Linked DNA regions of Homo sapiens: region 2 is linked to region 1. The links come from fine-mapping of genetic effects on gene expression. Tissue or cell type: whole blood. Region 1 holds a variant in brackets; the other region holds the start of a gene. All regions are shown on one strand. Distances are from middle to middle.

The links. PIP is the estimated chance that this variant, and not a neighbour inherited with it, causes the effect.
Region 2: it holds the start of SLC35D3, and the variant in region 1 is fine-mapped to the expression of SLC35D3 in whole blood (INTERVAL, PIP above 0.99).

What each region holds. Positions count from the first base shown.
Region 1 is chr6:136,956,388-136,959,144 of GRCh38, forward strand. No RefSeq gene overlaps it. Among named protein-coding and RNA genes, the nearest start is that of SLC35D3, 35 kb to the left of the region's middle. RefSeq lists enhancers at 171-739, 1,876-2,442 and a silencer at 904-1,198. The variant G/A (reference allele first, on the strand shown) is at 1,103.
Region 2 is chr6:136,921,182-136,923,789 of GRCh38, forward strand. SLC35D3 (solute carrier family 35 member D3) reads left to right here and starts at 1,120. Exons shown (of 2, transcript NM_001008783.3): 1 at 1,120-1,686. The coding sequence starts at 1,248. RefSeq lists an enhancer at 142-648.

The sequences.
Region 1 (2,757 bases):
AGGAGTGCAGTGATGTAATTTCAGCTCACTGCAACCTCCACCTCAGCCTCTCTAGTAGCTGGGACTACAGGCATGCGCCACCATGCCCGACTAATTTTTTTTTTTTTTTTTTTGTATTTTTAGTAGAGATGGGGTTTTGCCATGTTGTCCAGGCTGGTCTTGAACTCCTGGCCTCATGTGATCCACCCGCCTTGGCCTCCCAAAGTGCTGGGATTACAAGTGTGAGCCACTATGCCCGGCCTGTATCCCATTGTTAACATATATCTTTATGAAAGCAAAAGCAAATGTTATAGTCACACAATTATAGAATAATGTCATGTATATAATTTCTATTTAAATGTAAAGTCAAAAAAGTCCTCTGAGATGGAGCCTTCCCTTATGAAATGCTCTACCCTGCTCCTGGCTGATGGCAACCAGATCATATTTCAAACTGCTAATCAAGTTGTTAATTTATAAAATCGAGTAGATGGGAAAAGGTTTCTACTTTGGCTTTGACTTTAATTATGTTAACTTTTTCCTTTCTCTCCTAAAATACAACTTGTTAGCAAATGCCACCTAAATGGTACTTCCTTTGTGACTTCGCAGCTGTCATTGTTATGCATTCATCAGGCCGGAAGTGCTCTTCTGTGTATTTTTGGAAAGCTATTCATCTGTTTTAGCTAAACAAACAGAGCTGTTTAAGCTGTTAAAATACAGTACCATAGTTATTTGTTTTTGCATCTTCGAGTTGCATGTAAATGAAAGGTTCGGGCTAATTGGTTCTAGGAATAGTATCCAAAGCAGTTCTAGAGAATTTCTCCCGGTAATTAAGTGGAATGCACTCTGGGACTCTAGTCGGCCTCACACAGAAGGGCCTCTTGGCTTTCCTTGTGGCTGTTTGTGCTTATCTCAGCCAGCTCAGTGGTTGTGGGTAGTGGGCTGTGGGCTGTGGGCTGGGGTGGTTAGGAGGGGAGGAAGAAAAAAGTTAATTACGGCCCAATGCAGGCCGACTGGAGCTCAAGGAGGAGGCACTGCAATGGAGAAAGAGGAGCTGGGGCAGGGCCGGCTGCATAGGCCTGCGACTAGTGCTGGCACACAGCCTCTGAGCCCAGAAGGGGGCCCC[G/A]CACTCCCAATGTCTGCAGCCACCGTCTTGGAATTCTGATTTATCTTTGAATACATGGTGTCTTTTAAGTGAAGTCCTAATGGGATGATGGAGCAGAAGCTGGGACCTTGGAGCCTCCCGCCACCTCCCTGCCTTTCCTGGCCCTGGCTGCAGGCTCCCCTTCCACCCCCCTGCCTTTCCTGGCCCTGGCTGCAGGCTCCCCTTCCACCCCCCCACCCACCCACCCAGTCCCAGGCTCTCCCCCACCATCCACCCACCCAGTCCCAGGCTCCCCCACCACCGCCCACCCAGCCCCAGGCTCCCTTCCCACCCACCCACCCAGTCCCAGACTCCCCCACCACCTACCCACCCACTCTCAGACTCCCCTACCACCTACCCATGCAGCCCCAGGCTCCCCTCCCACCCCCCACCCAGTCCCAGGCTCCCCCCGACCACCCAGTCCCGGGTTCCCCCACCATCCACCCACCCAGTTCCAGGTTCCCCCACTGCAACCACCCCCTGCCCCAGTGCAGGCCCTGGTGGTCTCATGCGCATGCTCACCCCCTGCCCCCCACGCCAACCCCTTGCTTCTGAGGATCTGCACTCACCTTGCAGTATTGTGCCGGTGGGCGTGTGGCATTACATAGCAAATTACAAGCACCAGGAAGGGGCAAGAGAGAAACCGTGAGGGGGAGAAAGAAAAATCCTTTCTCTTGGTTTTTGCAAAAGGGACCCCACATTGTCATTTTTCACTAAGCCCTGAAAAGTAAGTAGCAGTCAGGAGCCAATGCACTGGTTCACCACCAAAGCCGGCAACTCAAAAAGCCCAAAGGAAGGCAATCTTGCCAACAACCAGAACGCTCCTAAGAACCTGCAGGAGCTTGACATCCACAGGTGAAGTCAAAGTTTCTCCGGCCAGAGTAAGCATCTAGGCGATTAAGCAGCATCCAGGTGGGGGTGCCTGTGACACCTGGAGCCCCAGAGGGCTTGTTACAGTGCTCTTTTAGCTCTGGGCTCTAGCGCTTGGGCTTCAGCTCTTAAAAGCCATGAATAGAGTAAGGATGAACTACAGGGTGTGGGGATAGAATAAGGGACTTAGTTTTTCAGAGAAGTTAAATGATGTAGAGTTTAGACTCTGATGCCAGGTGGTCATGGTTCAAATCCCTTTCATCCATTAATACCATGACCTTGGCCAAGTCACTCAATTATTCTGAGCTGCCAGATAAGGATCTGTGGAATCATTTCTTGATGAGTCTGATATTTTGCTTCTTTCCCATCTTTTCAGTTATTAAAAATTAAATAAAGTTATTATTTAAAAAGTGGAAATACTTCAATTTAGTCATATTTCTATCTGGTTAGGTTACAATGCCTTATTTCCCTCTATTGATGTCAGTCATGCTTCTGGTGGTTGCACGACAATCCTAATATAAGTGAACATAGGTATAATCTTGGCATCGAGAATGCCATTTATATGCATGATAGGGACGGGGGCAGAGAAATTCTAGGCAGAAAAGTGTGGTCCCTGACGAAATCTCACCCTCAAGCCAAAAAGCCTGAAACCCGTGGTCCAAAGTGAGAACTTCTATCCCTGTTTTCCCATGTGAATGCTGCCTTTCCCTAAACTACCTATGGCCCACTCTGCCCCTATCCTGTGCATAGAAGACTCCAGACTCAGC
Region 2 (2,608 bases), 35 kb before region 1:
CTCCGCCTGCCGGTTGTCCTGCTTCCGAAAGCAACCCACGACGGTCCCGCAGGGTGAGGGTTCCCTGGGATCAGTTCCCTGGGATCCGGAGAACGCCACGCGGAGTCTCCCTGCAGGGTGAGGGGCCCCGGGTTCCCGCCCCCTCCCCCTCTACTCTCCCATTCTGCGAGCGCAGCCAGCCTCCCCTCCCACGCTTCGGGAAGCGTCGCCCCCGAGCTCCTCGGTTCCTGGTGGTGGCTACTCGTGTTAGTGACTTCGTTTCTGCGCGTTTGCTTATTTTCATCTTTGCCTCAGTTCGAATGTGTCCCCGCCACCAGGCCCCGCTGCTGGGCGAGACCACTGAACCCCCTGAAAGCTTCCCCGGAGCCGCGCGCATAATCCCGGGACCCTCTCTGGAAGGCGTGCGGAGAGCGGTGCGCGTGGCCTGGCACCGGAAGGAGCCAGCTTCCGGGCTCCGAGGCACCCCCTGGACAGCGCCCCGGGCCGCGGGTTCCTCCTCCGATGCCCGGGCGTCGTCGCCGGGATCGGGAGCTTCGGGGGCCCGCCGGCACCGACGGTTTTCGCTTCCCTGGCGGGCAGCTGGACGAGGTCCCGCCGCTGCACCGGGAGGGACAGTGGGTGGAAAAAGCCGCTGCAGCGCCGGGGCGAGGGGGCTGGGGGCGCCGTCACTTGTTGCGACCAATAAACGGCGCTCGATCCTGATGCGCTGTTTCTAAAATCTTTAGCTGTGTCCCGATCCCTCCAACCCAAGCCCCTCGGCCAGGAGGAAGGGGCAAGCGAGAGCCGCTGGCTCTGTGGGGGGAGAGGGGCGCCGCGCCCCAAGAGCCCCCGTCCCGCCCTGCGGCAGCCGCCCCGGGGCGCCCAGCCGCCCGCTTCCCTCCGCAGAGCGTCTTCCCTGACGGTGAAACCGCGCGGGACACAACCCACCGCGGCTCATCACCCACTTACAAATAGCTGTCGCTAGGATTCCCGCCACTCCTCTCAGACCGGCCCCCCCGCCACCTCTGCCACTTTTCGGAGTCCCCCGCCCTCGTCACTGCCTCCCCGGAGCTGCGGGGCAGTCGGACGCAGAGCTGCCTAACCGCAAGAACGCCTGGCCGGAGCTGCCCTCTGCAGCCGAGCCGGCGCCCCCTGCCCTTCGCCGCCGCGCTGGGCGGGCGCCCCCGCCGCCCTCACTCCGCTGCTCCCGGCTCCTCGCGCGCAGGTCGCGGAGCTCCGCCACCGCTGGGTGCGGCGAGGCCGGCGCGATGCGGCAGCTGTGCCGGGGCCGCGTGCTGGGCATCTCGGTGGCCATCGCGCACGGGGTCTTCTCGGGCTCCCTCAACATCTTGCTCAAGTTCCTCATCAGCCGCTACCAGTTCTCCTTCCTGACCCTGGTGCAGTGCCTGACCAGCTCCACCGCGGCGCTGAGCCTGGAGCTGCTGCGGCGCCTCGGGCTCATCGCCGTGCCCCCCTTCGGTCTGAGCCTGGCGCGCTCCTTCGCGGGGGTCGCGGTGCTCTCCACGCTGCAGTCCAGCCTCACGCTCTGGTCCCTGCGCGGCCTCAGCCTGCCCATGTACGTGGTCTTCAAGCGCTGCCTGCCCCTGGTCACCATGCTCATCGGCGTCCTGGTGCTCAAGAACGGCGCGCCCTCGCCAGGGGTGCTGGCGGCGGTGCTCATCACCACCTGCGGCGCCGCCCTGGCAGGTGAGCGGGCCCCCGCGCCGACCCCCAGCCGACCCCACCCACCCCGCTCCGTCGGGCAGAGACCGCGGGGATCACTGAGTTCAACGACCTCACTTCCAGATGGGGAGACTGAGGCAGAGAGAGCCGGAGAGCTTTGAGAGTGGTCGCTCAGCTCGCAAAAGGGACTTCCGAGACCCAGAGAGCTCCCCAGCGCCCCACCAAGTCCCCCTGCCCCCTAATGTCCTGGCTTCCGACCCTCGCCCATGCTTCACCCGGCATCGCCCTTCCTGTCGCCCCCTCTCCTGGTCTTCCCCTGTCACCCCATTCTCCGGGAGAGGTGGGAGGGCCGCCTGAGCCTGGGAGCTGGAGTCCTCCAAGCCTGGACCAAGCCGGAAGGAGGGGGCCGTGAACTTCCTTGGGTCACGAGGGGCTGGAATGGAGGTGGGGGATGGGGGCGAAGCTGAGGGTTCCCGGGGCTACTGCGGGGTGTCTCGTGCTGCGCAGGGGGCTGCGGCCCTGGGGCAGACGACCCAGGTGCTGAGCGAGACGAGAGCCTGGGCAGGGGGAAGCTTCACTGGGGGCCAGAACAGGCGTTCTCCCCCGCGCCTGGCCCGCTCCGGGTTGCAGGCCACTGGCTGGGGCTCCCTCTCCCTTTGGTGCCCCACGGGGCAGGGGCTCCGGGGTGCAGGTACCACGCGCCCAAGTGACCTCGGTGCCAGCTCGGGGAAGCCACAGCACCTGCCCCGAGGGCATCTGCGCTCTCCGGGGCCTTTGTCTTGGACAGAGGAAGATGGAGTGACCCGGGGATATGGCGGGAAGGCGCTCTGAGCACTGAGTTTGGCTGTCGCATTTGACACGGGTGGCCGAGGGACGGCGGGCGTCTGTCACTCAGGAATCCGGTGGGCAGAGCTGGGGCGCGAACCCAGTCTCCTTTCCTACCCGA